2 linked regions of the Homo sapiens genome follow. The protein of the gene in region 1 binds, or shares a complex with, the protein of each later gene. Each region holds a gene or a part of one and is shown on either strand. Other genes may lie near its edges. A codon is read from its position in the direction of its gene.

What was found. Proteins that work in one complex are often made in the same cells at the same time.
Region 2: the proteins of KSR2 (region 1) and MAP2K1 are in contact, whole or in part, in a crystal structure (PDB 7UMB), measured with the Homo sapiens proteins. Residues at the interface, in NP_775869.4 of Homo sapiens: Lys674, Arg818, Asp820, Lys821, Leu822, Arg823, Ile824, Gln825, Asn826, Ile837, Arg838, Gln839, Leu840, Ser841, Pro842, Gln877, Pro878, Ala879, Glu880, Ala881, Ile883, Trp884, Gln885, Gly887, Thr888, Met890; in NP_002746.1 of Homo sapiens: Val81 (codon at 3,725), Glu102 (codon at 2,154), Met219, Ala220, Asn221, Ser222, Phe223, Val224, Gly225, Thr226, Arg227, Ser228, Met230, Arg234, Leu235, Gln236, Gly237, Met308, Ala309, Ile310, Phe311, Glu312, Leu314, Asp315, Val318, Asn319.

The regions. Positions count from the first base shown.
Region 1 is NC_000012.12:117,965,886-117,973,497, reverse strand, and holds the start of KSR2 (kinase suppressor of Ras 2), read left to right. Parts: upstream 1-4,507; 5' UTR 4,508-5,242; coding exon 5,243-5,422; intron 5,423-7,612. UniProt on the Homo sapiens protein: Location-regulated scaffold connecting MEK to RAF. Has very low protein kinase activity and can phosphorylate MAP2K1 at several Ser and Thr residues with very low efficiency (in vitro).
Region 2 is NC_000015.10:66,431,912-66,438,911, reverse strand, and holds part of MAP2K1 (dual specificity mitogen-activated protein kinase kinase 1), read right to left. Parts: intron 3,886-7,000; coding exon 3,675-3,885; intron 2,167-3,674; coding exon 2,020-2,166; intron 1-2,019. UniProt on the Homo sapiens protein: Dual specificity protein kinase which acts as an essential component of the MAP kinase signal transduction pathway.

The sequences.
Region 1 (7,612 bases):
GATCTGCATTTTTGGGGTAGCATCTCTTAATTTTGGAACTACTGTCAAGAGCATTAGTCAGGGTTCTTTGTTGCCAATGACACAATCCACTCTAGGTAGTTTAAGCAGAAGTATTTTAATAGGGTGGTGAATTGTGGTCCCTCTTCCCTGCACCAAATCATATGTTGAAGCCCTAACCCTCAATGTAACTGTATCTGGAGACAGGATCTTTAGGAGGTAATTAAGGTTAGATGATGTCTTAAGGGTGGGGGCCTAATCCAATAGGACTACGGCCTTATAAGAAGAGGATGAGAGAGAAGAAGAGAGAGAGAGAGTGATAGATCTTTCTCTCTCTCTACCATGTGAGGACACAACAAGAAGGTGGCCATCTGCAAGCCAGGAAGAGAGCCCTCATCAGAACCCAGAACCTGACCATGCTGGCATCCCAATTTCAGAATTCCAGTTTCCAGAATAGTGAGAAAATAAATTTCTTTTTTCTTTTTTTTTTTGAGATGGAGTCTCGCACTGTCACCTGGGCTGGAGTGCAGTGGCGTGATCTTGGCTCACTGCAACCTCCACCTCCTGGGTTCAAGCGATTCCCCTGCCTTAGCCTCCTGAGTAGTTGGGATTACAGGTGCCCGCCACATGCCCAGCTAATTTTTTTTTCTTTTTGTATTTTTAGTAGAAACAGGGTTTCACCATGTTGGCCAGGCTGGTCTTGAACTCCTGACCTTGTAATCCACCTGCCTCGGCTTCCCAAAGTGTTGGGATTACAGGCACGAGCCACCACGCCCAGCGAGAAAATAAATTTCTGTTGTTTAAGCCACCCAGTATTTTGTTATGGCAGCCACTAAGACAGGTGGTTGAAAACTCTGTAGAATCTCCAGGAGGACAAGAGAGCCAGGTTCTGTCTGTGCAGCCAGAAATGACTCCCAAACCAGCTGTGGGGCTGCCCCTGTGAACACGTGACATGCCTTTCACCGTGGACACCAAGCTTACACAGGGGTGGAGCACCTGGAAGCAGATGGCTTGGCTGCCAGGCTCACTATCAGATAGATTCCTCCCTTTTGTTGTTCACTTCCTGGCAGAAATCTCATGTGATCTTCTAATGGCACAGCCTAGATCACATGTGACCTGTTTGCAAGGAAGATTCTGGAAAAGTGCTTTGGCTTCTCTGAGGGAAAGGTGGAACTCATAATGTGAGGCATTTTCCAAACATAGGAAGAGTATGCATTTGTGTGCTGCTTACAGCCCTGCCCATTGATGACATCTGCCCCATGGGCTACTTTCATTGTTTAAACTTCCACTTCTTCTGAGAACAACTAGAAAAACAAGATTAAATCATCATCATCGTCACCATCTGTTAAAAGACATTCAGAGAACTGCTGAAATAACCAGGACTAAAGGGGCCAAGATTCTGGAGACAGGAACACCGTGGTGAGGTGAGCTGATGTTCTGCAGCCGATTTTTCCCTGGGGATATTTGCACATTTGGGCACAGGGAAAGAGGCCGAGGTTCTAGACTCTTCCCAGGCATGAAGGCTGCTTTGGGGGAACAGAGAAACTGACAAAACTTTTAGCAACCTCATGGGGCTAGAAAGACAAAACTGGGGACTTGAGAGGCCATTATCCCAGGGAGAAGACAGGGGCAGAAAAGTGAGCCTGATAGATGGTGGTTTCCCCTCGAGGTATTTGGCAAAGTTTGAAATAGTGCAGGGCAAGAAGCAAAGAAGCCAAGCAGAAGGTCCCTCAAAAACAGAGCCGTTCCCACAGTCTCGCCATGCTGTGGAGATAAGGGTTAGAGCTCAGGACCAGAGAGAGGGGCCTTAGTGAACACCCAAGGTTCCTAGCTGGAACCCTGGAAAGGCACAGCATTAGAGGTAGGGAACAGAGTGAAGTGGTGTCTTATCAAAACTATAACCTGGTCTCCACCCAGCTCAGCCCCTGATTGGATTAAGATAATTGATCTGTATGCCATTTGTCTTGCAGAGAAAGGGTGCGTCCTCTCCAGAGTTAGATATTATCACCTGGAGACTGTACATTTTTTCAACGTCTGACATTCAATAAGAATTACAAGGCCTGCCAAGAGACAGGACCATATCACTGAAAATAAAGGGAAAAATAGTCAATAGAAAGAGACCCACAGGTGATCAAGCTTTTGGAGTTAGACAAATGCTTTAAAATAACCATAATTAACATGTTTAAGAAAAATGAAAAGTTGGAGAAAATAGATGAAAAGAGATAATTTTACCAGAGAATCGGATTTCATAAACTTCATCGTCCAAAAGATTGAGAACATAGAGAACTTACTTCACCTGCTCATTGACAGATGTTGAAAATACTGACTCAGTTCTGTATAGCTATAAATCCCATGGCTTACAGTATTGTTTTTCTTTCTTTGTGTTTTTTTTTTTTTTTTTTTTTTGAGACAGAGTTTTGCTCTTGTTGCTCAGGCTGGAGTGCAATGGCACAATCTCAGCTCACTGCAACCTCCGCCTCCTGGGTTCAAGCGATTTTCCTGCCTGGGAGTAGCTGGAATTACAGGCGCCTGCCACCATGCCAGGCTAATTATTTGTATTTTTAGTAGGGACAGGGTTTCACCATGTTGGCCAGGCAGTCTCAAACTCCTGAGCTCAGGCTATTCACCCGCTTCAGCCTCCCAAATTGCTGGGATTACAGGTGGGAGCCACCACACCGGGTCAGCTGGCAGTCTTAAAAAAAAAAAAAAGTGTGTTGAGGGAGAGCATCAGGAAAAATAGCTAATGCATGCTGGGCTTAATACCTAGGTGATGGGTTGATAGGTGCAGCAAACCATCATGGCACACGTTTACCTATGTAACAAACCTGCACATCCTGCACATTTACCCCAGAACTTAAAAATAAAGGTTGTCATTCAACGTGGCCACCACTGGCTCCTGTTCGCTCTGCTTTTCAAGTGGCTTCATTTAAGAGTGACATATTATACCATGTGTTCTGAGTATCACGTCTTACTCAGTCCTCAGCACAGGGCTCTGTTCACCTAAAGAAAGAGGTGCCTTTTGCTAATCATTCTAAATACATCTGTTGGGCAATGTGTGTTGGGAATACTATTAGATAAGGTGGTTAGGGAGATGAGGCCTCTCTGAGATGATATTTGAGTTAACAGTGACAAGAAGAAACCCACCAGGAGAGGATTAGGGTGAAGCATGTTCTGAGCACTGTGGACATAGAGTACAAAGATTTAATCAAGAGTCAGCAAACTTTTCTGTAAAGTGCCAGACAGTAAATCTTTCAGGTGTTGTGAACCACCGGTCTCAGCTGCAGCTACTCAACTCTGCTTTACAACGCAGGAGTAACCACAGACAATAAACAGATGGGTGGTGGTACTCCAATAAAACTTTACTTGTGGACACTGAGATGTGAATTTCACATAACTTTCACGTGTCACAAAATGTTATTTTCATTTTTTTCCAACCATTTTATTTACATTTTTAATTTTTGAATTTTTAGTAGCGACAGGGTCTTGCTATGTTGTTGCCCAGGTTGGTCCCAAACTCCTGGCCTCAAGCGAGCCTCCTGACTGCCTCCCAAAGTTCTGGGGATTACAGGCATGAGCCACCTCACCAGGCTTCCAAAAATTTCAAAAGGTAAAAACCATCTTAACTGTGGAGCCATCGTTTGCTGATATAACGTCAGTTAGGTATGCTGGGGTCAGGCCACACAGACACTTGTAGGACATGGGAATACTCAGAATAAGGCAAAGGCCCTTTTCCTCGCCAAATGGAAAGCCATCAGGGCGGGCCAGGCTACCAAGTCTAGGAGGCAGCTTCCTGAAATTCACGGAAGATCATCAGGTTCGCTTTATTTTTTCCCCAGTAACAAGAAAGGACAAACGAACAAAAAAGGCACACACACACAAACACACACCCAAAGGACAAACGAACAAAAAAGGCAAACACACACACACACACACACCACCCCCGAGCTAAAGACAGACGGGATGTGCCCAGGTTCACGCCGACGCCTCTCCGGCGCGCACCGAGGGTTTTAAAGTTGGGCGCACACCTGCTCCCAGCCGGAGCGCACCTGCTGAGCAGCACTCCGGCCCGGTCTCGCGAGAGCGGTGCAGGAGTAGTGGCCCCCACCCGCTCCCCGCCACCAAATCCCTCTCCCCGCCCCCTCGCCCAGCCTCCAGGCTCGGGCACACTCCCGGCCTCCCCCGCCGCCCCCGGGAGCAGGCTGGGCCCGATGCGCGCGCTGTCTCCGCGCCCCCGCCCGCCGATCGCTCGCTTGCTCGCTCGCACGCACTCCCGGTAGTAATTTCACTTTGCCACGCGAGCTCCGCAGCCCCTAGAAATCCCGCCCCCCGGCCAGGTGCGCGAGTCTGCGCGCTCCTCCTCCGCCTCCTCCGACGGGTCCCTGGCGCGCCGGGGCCGGGGCCCGGCTGGGGCGGCTGCGCGCACGGCGCCTCTCCACCAACCCGCTCCCCTGCAGGTCCCTCGCTTGGTCTCCATCCCTCTCCGGCGCTCCCTCGCTCCCCCCCGCCCTTTGATTGACAGGCAAGATGTCGGTGTGGAGCGAGGCAGGAGCGATTGCAGCAACCGTCACCCCCGGAGCCCGGCGGCGGCAGCAGCAGCAGCAGCAGCAGCGCGGGGAGGAGACAGCAGCCAGCCGCAGTAGCCGCCGCAGCCGCGGGAGCAATGCAGACAGCACCTTGAGAACGCGCTAAAGCACTCCAAACCGTGGACCATGCCGTGTCCCTGCAACTGGGAGGGGGGAAAACCAGATTTTTTTTGACATAAAAGCAAGCCAGCCAAAAATATATAATTTTGTCCTTCAAGGAGCCGGTGTGTAAAGAGTGAGCGCTATTTTCCTTCTCCTCCTCCTCCTCTCCCTCCTCCTCCTCTCCCTCCTCCTCTCTCTCCTCCTTCTCCTCTTCTTTTTCCTCCTCCTCCTCCTCCCTAAGTGTACAGACAGCATCACATCACCTGGTTTGCTTCTGAGAAACAGCATCTCTCCTTTTCAGGGACCAGAGACTCAGAGAGAGAGGAGACATTCTAATGGAGTCCGCTTGATATCCCAAAATAAAATAATAAATTTTGGCTCTTGTCCCCTCCTCCCACTCCCACCCCCTCAACCCTGTGTGAGATGTTGGATTTCTTCTTCATGAGACATTGTTGAGAAGTCGCAGTGGTTGGAGAGGCGGAGGGTAGACTACCTCTACTCCCCCCCCTCTTTTTTCTCTCTGGGAGGAGGAGGAGGGGAAGGGGGTTGCAGAGCAAGCGATGGATGAGGAAAACATGACGAAAAGCGAGGAGCAGCAGCCTCTGAGTTTGCAAAAAGCCTTACAGCAGTGCGAACTGGTCCAAAACATGATAGACTTGAGCATCTCCAACCTGGAAGGGCTTAGGACCAAATGTGCTACCTCCAACGACCTCACACAAAAAGAAATCCGGACCCTGGAGGTAGGTGTTGCCTACGGGAAAAAAAAAAAAAAAAAAAAAAAAAAAAGCAATCCTTCTTTCCCCCTCCTTTCTCCCCACGGTCCCCTTTCCCTCTGATTCTGTTTATTGGGGGCTGGGGGTGGTGGTGTGGGCAAGCAAGGTGGGCACGGTTTGCTTTTCTGTGATTTCTCTCCTTGCAAAGCCTGCATTGGATATCCTTTTACTGTGCTGCTGTCGTCTGCGCTTGGCTGGGTGGTGGTAGTAGTAGTAGTAATTGTTATTCTTTATTTATTATTATTGTTGCGGCTGTTACCGTTGTCATTCGCTTCCTCGCTGAGGAGGGAGTTCTCTCTTTTTTCCGCTTGTGGATTTGTTTATATGCCACGGGGGCTTGTGTGCCGGGTAATACATTAAGGAGCTGCAGAGAACCCACGTGACCTTGCGCATTCTGCAGGTGGTCAAAAGGTGGTTTTTGCTCACAGAATGGGGCCGCCTGTCAGTGTAGACCTCTTCTTCTCTTGGCCTTCTTCCCCTCCCTCCTTTTGCTCCTTAGATTTTTTGTTTTAAATCAGTGATATACATGTCAGGAGGCAAGATGCATGAAAAAAAAAATTCCTATGGAACTACCCATTTCCAATCCAATCGTTTTGATGCAGTGAGCTGTTGCAGGCCTAAAACGTACAAAAGGGAAAAAAAAATATGCCTCAATCAGCACACATAGGTGGTGTGGGAGAATACTCCTGAATCTCAGTGGGACTGTGAGGAAAGAGGAAAGGGGTCGGGGAGGAGGAGTTATCTTTGGCTTCTTGTGACATTCTCTCCGGCAGAACTTGAGGGGGAGTTTGAAACAGTTTTTTGGGGGAGTGGGATGGGATGAAGGGTGGTTGCAAAGTTACTCAGAAAGAAGATGGCAGAAATTATTTTTTTCTGAAGGCCATTTGGTCAAAGGAGGAAGGTTTAAAGAGGCTTAGGAAATGCCAAATGCCTGGTGTCCACGAGATCACTGGACATCTGCATTGTTCAAAATGTTTGAAGGGTTCAGCTCACTTCCTTCTCCCAAACCAACCCAGCTATACGCATGGGTTGATTAAATTTGGGAACTTCCATTAGCTGGCATCCGCCGAGGGTGGGGGCAGTGGGGCTGAGAGAACAGGGGTTCCCTCTGTGGTGGAGTGGGCATGAGCAGTACTGAGACGTTCATCTTGGTCCTGGCACATGAGTTCCCAAGGCCTGAACTCGTCAGTCCGTAGTGAATCTTGTGGCCCTCCTGCCCCTGTTGTAGCCTGGATGGGTGCTTTTCTCGGATTCGCTTTGGGTATTTCTTTTTTTTCCGTGATTTTTAAATTTGGCTGGATGTCAACATGCAGGAGGTCATCCCTTTGAAAGAAGAGAGAGAGAGAGAGGGAGGGAGAAAGAGAGGGAGGGAGAGAGAGAAAGAGAGAGACAGCATGTGTGTGTGTGTGTGTGTGTGTGCGTGCGCGTGTGAGAGAGAGAGAGAGAGAACATGCTGTTTGCTACCCTAGGATGCATGTCTGTGTGCACCTGTCATCTGGAAATGTGATCCTCAGAGATGAAATAAGATCAATGTCAAGGTGTATCGGGAGAGTGGGAATTGTGTTGGGAGGCACAGGTATTGCCTTTCCTGGAGCTTGGGAGAGCAGGTGAGGCCGGAGCTCTGTTGCTGGAAGAAAAAGTGTGGGATGTTCTGATCCAGCCTTCTGTCTCTGCCTGAACAGTGCCCAAGAGCAGACTCTTCAGACCTGCATGCAGTCAATAAATAACCCCAAAAAAGCCACCTGAGCTCTCTTCTGTTCCTCTGAATCAGGAGTCCCAAATGCTAGTTTGTGTATTCCTGTGTAAGTTTCTTCGAAGTTTTCTTTTTTTTTGTTTCAAACATGCTCCATCCTCTGATAGCTTCCTGGATGGGGATGTGCCGCAGTGGGCATTGCCTTCTTTCTGCCTAGTGGTTTTCCTTTTAAACTGGGGGGATGGAGGCACTGGTAGGATGGCTATGGGGGAGTTGCAGTTGTAGGAAATGCATCTGTTTTCAGTTCCCTTGTCCCAGTATGCTACAGAGCATGCAACCACTTTCATCCATCTTGCCCAGGGAATGCTCTTGAGCAATTATTCCAATTTGTATTTCCCAGATTTGCAGGGTTAGGGAGGGCCCCTGCAGAGGGGCTGGTAACTTAGGGTCCAGCCAAGTCCAGC
Region 2 (7,000 bases), on another chromosome or scaffold:
ACACCCAGGGCCAAAAGGTCCTATGGCAGGCTCCAAGGCCTAACCCTCCCCCATCGAGTCCCAAGCCTGACCAGGTCTTCCCCATCCTGGCCACTCTCATTCAGTCACTCAACACATACCACCTAACAGGTGCCAGACACTGTGCTTGGCCCTTGAAACATTTTCCCCTCCCAGTCTCATGCTCTCCACGATAACTCCAGAGACTTGTGCAGGAACATCTCACTATTTCCAGAGAGCCAAATCCATGGGGGGAAAAACTGACCTGCAGTCACTGGAAATGGGCTAAGAGAATGGGAAACCAACTCCAGTCATTTCCAGTGTCATTTTCTCCTGAAGGAGGAGGAAGGCTTGAAGGAAGGGGAGGACATGGCAAGGGCACAAGAGATGTGATCAACATCTGTAAGTTCAAAGTGAATAAAGAATTCCAGAATAAGGATGCCACCTAGCATCTCAAAAAAGGTCAATGTAAATGAAGAAGCCTCCTAGTATCTCAAAAGAGGTCAATGTAAGAAAAATAAAAAGATTGGTTGGGCACGGTGGCTCATGCCTGTAATCCCAGCACTTTGGGAGGCCGAGGCGGGCAGATCATGAGGTCAGGAGTTCGAGACCAGCCTGGCCAACATGGTGAAACCCCATCTCTAGTAATGATAGAAAAAAATTAGCGGGGCGTGGTGGTGCGCACCTGTAATCCCAGCTACTCTGGAAGCTGAGGCAGGGGAATCACTTGAACCTGGGAGGTGGAGGTTGCAGTGAGCCGACATCGCGCCACTGCACTCCAGCCTGGGTGACAGGGCGAGACTCTGTCTAAAAAAACAAAAAGAAAAAAAAAGAAAGGGGAAAAAAACCCTTCATCACCCTAAAAAATAAAAATAAATTAAAAAAAAAAAAAAAAGAACACAAGAGACCCAAGGGATAAGAAACAGCTCCCTGAGGGGAAGCCAAGACCCAAGCAGAAAATAATCAGCACCCCAGGCCAAGCACTAGGACCAAGCCAGAAATGTTCATATGCTTCCCACAGAGAATGCTCTGCTCTCATTGAGGAAAGAAGGAACAAGCACTTTCTCTAACCTTTAGATGTGCAGAAGACGTTTTTAGGATTTAGGTTCCATATGGCACCCACAAATGTCAGCAGATGCCTATAACAGTGGATGCAGCACTTCGTGATCATTACAATGAAGAGAGGTTCAAAATAATGGAGGCACAAGTAGAGAATCCTCCCAGGAGGGTTCTTCTAAAGTTCATTAAGGCTGCACACCAGGATCCCTATTCTAAAGGTCAGGGCAGGTCTCAAGTATCAGGAATAAAATGGGGTAGGAGCTGAGAGACACAATACTGGACTGAAAGCACAACAGCCACCAAGTGTGCAGACTCACGTCAGCCCTCATCTCTAAGCCATCAGCCCAGGGAGAATAAAGCAAAGACTAATACTTGCAGAATTCCCTAAGTTGCACAGTGTGTTGGAAGACTTATATCTGAAGAAAAGGAGGGACTCCAAGAACATAGTGGTAAAATGATTGGCAGCTAACATGCATATGATTAATTAGCCCATGAATGCCCTCTCTCTCCATTGCCCTCTCCTTCCACTAACGTGCATCATACAGAAACCCAGAGAAACCCTTCAGGCTGCCCTTACAGTAGATTATGTCATCTTTTTAACTCCAGAGCCTTGCACCTAGCATACAGCATTGTACACAAGAAATGGATTTAAACTGTATTTACCAGATTTTACTTACATCACATCTTAGGGTAATCAGAATCAAAAAAACTATGAGAGGTGCTCTAGGTACACCCACCAGGAATACTGCCCACTTCCTTCAAGAGAGGCAAGGACCTAGAAAGGAGGCCTGCCATCTTGTGAATATCCCAAGCTCTACAGTTAGACTTCCCAGATGCCCCAGATAGTGATGTGGATCCCAGGAGCAGCAGGGAGGTAGCTGGTCACCTCCCAGACCAAAGATTAGGCCAGAGCCACCCAACTCTTAAGGCCATTGCTCCAGAGGCTGAGAGGGTGTCACATACCATGTGCTCCATGCAGATACTGATCTCGCCATCGCTGTAGAACGCACCATAGAAGCCCACGATGTACGGAGAGTTGCACTCATGCAGAACCTGCAGCTCCCTTATGATCTGGTTCCGGATTGCGGGTTTGATCTCCAGATGAATTAGCTGGAGAAAGGTGGAAGAAAGAGAGGTTTTATGAAAGAAAGAGGGAGGAAGGGATGAAAGATATAGTCTTGTTAAATGTTTAAGCTCTTTAAGGTAGAGGGAGGAGAAACAGGTTAAGTTGTTACAAACAAGTTTCTGCTCAACCAAGAAATGAGTGTCATTGTACTAAGGCAGGCATTGGCACTGGAGGCTGTTCCAGCTGTGCCTCGGCTCCTGGGAGCCTAGACAGGAACAAAGTTAAGGGAGGGCTTACTCCAAGAGAGGCTTTGGAGCTCAGATATGAAAAGAAATTGACCTTGAGGACTTGGTTCACACTCAAGAGTTGTGAAAGTAGAAGGGTATGAGGAACTCAGGTATGCTAACCTAGGCTGCCCAAAAGATTCTTCCTTGAGCTCAGGAGCCTGATGTGGTTGAGACTAAGCCAAAGTCTAAGGTGCTACCTTATGTCATCCTAACATTTTCCCTTGTTCCAGCTGGGGAGACAAGTGACAGTCACATTAAATAGTTACGTAGTAAGGTTGAACTTCTAAAAAAATCCCACAGACAGCGAGTGTCAGAGAACATGGATGCAGTGGTTACCAGTGTGGGCTGGGGCACCTGGTAAAAGCTAGACAAGAGGTGGACCTAGAAAATGGGCACTGTTTGAAAAGACAGAAGCAACAGCACACAAAAAAATTATGGGCACAGGAGTGAACACCATGTGCAAAAAAACATTGAAGAGCCCAACCTCTCTGGAGCAAGGGGCTGTATTCCAAAAGAGGACCAAGGGTAGATAGGAAAGGGAAGTCCAGCTCTACAAGTACATGCTATGATAGGAGTTCAGATGCTATAATGCAGGAAGATAAAGGGGATTCACTGGCAGGGCTGGAGCACAAGAGGGAAACAACTTGAAATCCTTGTTTTGTGCATCGCTGGGGCTGGGTGAATGAAAGCAGCTTCTCCAGCACTTGATAAGTAATAAACAGGTATCCTGGCATTCCTTCCACAGCACACAGAAGGCTAAAAAAGAGTCACTTATTATTTTCCAGATGGGATGGGGATTAATACACTAACACAGTCATTAGTGTGTTTATCCATAATCTAATATAGATAACAAGCATTCAAAATTCAAACAGCACGGCTGGGCACAGTGGCTCACACCTGTAATCCCAGCACTTTGTGGGGCTGAGGCGGGCGTATCACCTGAGGTCAGGAGTTCGAGATCAGCTTGACCAACATGGAGAAACCCTGTCTCTACTAAAAATACAAAAAAATTAGCCATGCATGGTGGCGCATGCCTGTAATCCCAGCTACTCAGGAGGCTGAGGCAGGAGAATCGTTTGAACCCAGGAGATGGAGGTTGCACACCAGCCTGGGCAACAAGAATGAAACTCCGTCTTAAAAAAAAAAAAAAATTCAAACAGCACAAAAAGGTATTGAGTAAAATCAGTCTTCCTTCTACCCTGGTCCCCAGGCTTCTAAGTACCCTGAGAAATAATCCAATTACCTGTTAATCAAGGCAAACTCACCTTTCTGGCCATGACCAGGCCAGAAGGCTTGTGGGAGACCTTGAACACCACACCGCCATTGCCAGCCCCCAGCTCACTGATCTTCTCAAAGTCGTCATCCTTCAGTTCTCCCACCTTCTGCTTCTGGGTAAGAAAGGCCTCAAGGCGCTTTCGCTGCTGCTCATCAAGCTCTAGCTCCTCCAGCTTCTTCTGCAAGGCCTCCAAGTTGGTCCTGTTCCAAAGTGGGGAGCACAAGTCAATACTGTCACCAGAGAAGTCAACCCAAAGAAGTACTCCTATCATGGAAAGAAAGCTCCAGGTCTGGGGCCAGACAGATAATCAAAGTGGGAGGCTAGAGAGGAGGCCCCCTCCCACTGTGGCTCTGCCCACTTCACTCCAGCCACCCGGGATGACTATCACCAACATGCTTTACCTCTCAGGGCTTCAATTTCCTCATTTATAAAGTGAAAAAATTAGGTCTTTCTCACTCAGTATGCTGCAAGTCAATGAGAGGAACAAAAGAACCTACTAAAATCCAGAATGAGCCACCTTAATTTGCTTTAAAACCCCAGTTTAAAAAGCCCCACTACTGTTGGTTTTATTGTTTTTACCATACGCAAAATAAAATACCCTAAATTCACTAAAATGAAATCAAACCAACTTTAAACTGAATCACAACAGTAGAAATCCTCATTTTCAATGTAATCAGGTCCAGGAACCAGGTTAATCAAAAAAGTCACAGCAAAAAATCATAAAAATTACATATCTAAAATTCTTATTTTTACTCAATGTATATAAATCTGCATTCATTCGCCCATTCTTTAACATAGGGCAAGACTCTTTGAATAAGGGTCCAAAGAGGACCCACTGGTTAAGAGGTCCACATCATCCTTCGCACATGGACCAGAACATAATACATTGTCGACAATTTCCTATTCCTGATTTGTTAAAGCTGGTTAAAGTTATATTGTGATTACTTGCAGAGTAATCACAATATAAAATTCTAGAGTTTTATGATTTCCCCCAATCTTAATGTTCATCTAGTTTGACAGTAATGTGTTTTAGTGACTTGGACTTATAAGTCTTTCCACAGCTTTTAACTAGTGTTCATAGGGGAAAAAAATCACTTCATTTGCAGCTACATTTCATCAGTTTATCTGATACCTAAATACATTACTTAACTACAATACCAGCTACAGCTGAACAAATGGGTTTGGGAACAAGCTGGCTCTTGGTAAGCACATAATTCAGCCAGTGGGTGCTGAAGCGAGTGGGTATGGCAGAGAGCAGCCTGCCTGCAGTGCATTCAGCATGCTGTGGGCATTGCTCAAGAGTGTTTCATCCAGGGAACTGAAAAGTGTTCATCACTCCTGTGAGTTGGTTAACAGGAAGGTGGTAAGAGTTTCCACTGTGTTTCACTGGATTTCATTGGGTTTCAAATTGAAGTCCCGGGAGGTGAAGCATGTCAGTGACAATTGTGTGGGGTGGCTGAAGTGACACAGGTGACAAGATAGGCCTTCATTATACATCATCATGTTGGTGTTCCTGCCAACACACACACCCCAGTTCTGAGCTTAAAAGATAGAGTAAGCATAATCTGCTCTTCCTTCACACCCTCTATCCCAAACCTCTAGAAGACAGGGAAATGAAGACTTAATGCCTCTCCATGTATGAGGAGATCTGACACTGCCTTACAAATAACATCATGCATGGGACCAAAGAAGATGCAAGGCCGAGGTTACTGATTTTCCTCACTGATTTTCCCCCCACCCCACCTGCTGCACACATCAAAGAAAGGCCATGCAAGCACACAGTAGGAAGGCAGCTATCTGCAAGCCAGGAAGAGGGCTCTTGCCAAAACCCAACCATGCTGGCACCCTGCTCTTAGACTTTCAGCCTCCAGAACAGTGGGAAAATAAACTATTGTTGTCTAAGCTACTTAGTCTATGATATGTTATCATAGCAGTCCAAGCAAACTGAGGCAGCTACTCAATATTTTCATCCAAGGTTCGGCTATGTCTTGCAGTGTCCCCAGTCCCTAAGGTGTGGGAACCCAGAACATGTGTGGCTGGGGGTGCACAGTGCACACTCTCTGGTTTCCTTTCTCCAAGGTCTCCCCACAAAGGAGCTTACTGAGGACCACATTTAGAAACACATGTCAAATGTAGATGGACCCCACAGCTAAAACCTGAGTGAGGTTACAGCTGCCTGACAGGCTCAGCAGGCCAGCTAGAAATGCAGATTCGAAAAGCTGTCAACACACACACACACACACACACACACACACACACACACACACTGTGCATGATGGGGGAATGGAAGGAGGGCTGCATGGAAGAAAAACTGCTTTCCTCACAACACTGTGTAACTCTCCTCAGTGCTTTACATTTATTAAGTCATTTAATCCACAACCCCTAATTAGAACAGATGAGCAAACTCAAGCACAGACAGGTGAACTAAGATGTCAAAGGTCAAAGAGCTGGTAAGTGGCACAGCCACGTTTCAAATTCAGGCAGAGAGAACGAATGTCTTACCTTAACCATGATGCTATATTATCTTCAAAAAGCTCAATACTTTCAAGGGAGGCAACTGACAAACATGGGTAAGATCCCAGTGTGAGGCATTTAACACACCAGGCCTCAATCATACATAAAGATGGTGTGCCCTACACAAAAAGGCCTTTGCACCAGAGACAATCCTGTCTCCCCTGCACATCAATCTGATGATGGATCTGCTGGAGCAGATTAACACTGCCTTGCAGCTAATACTCGCCATAGAAATTCAATCAATTTGCAAAGGAAAAGGGAATGCTGACTCTGTTCACTTTTCTGACTCTTTGAAATAAGTAATTCTTACACCTTCTGGAGGAAAAACTAAGCCTGAGCTTTGTGCTTCCTTTCTCCCTCCTCTACCTCCTATGCCTTGCCGTTTAACCACCCACCCTACCAGCTAATGAACTGGCTTCTGACCTGTACTTTCAGAAGCTGGCCAGTGAGAGAAATGACAAAGACTATAGGCTGGGGTGGTAAAGACTTTCCTAATGGCAGGTGTGTATGGATGAGGACTGGAGATGGAATCGTGTTGACAAATCACTAGTATTCAAGAGTCCTGGATTCTTATCACAAATTGTTCATCAACCAGCTGTGTGACCATGGACAAGTCACTTAACCTTGCCACATTTCAGATTTCTCCTCTATATATCATGGAATACTATGCAGACATAAAAAGGAACGAGATCACGTCCTTTGCGGGAACATGGGTGGAGCTGGAGGTCATTATTCTCAGCAAACTAACGCAGGTATACAAAACCAAATACCGCATGTTCTCACTAGTAAGTGGGAACTGAA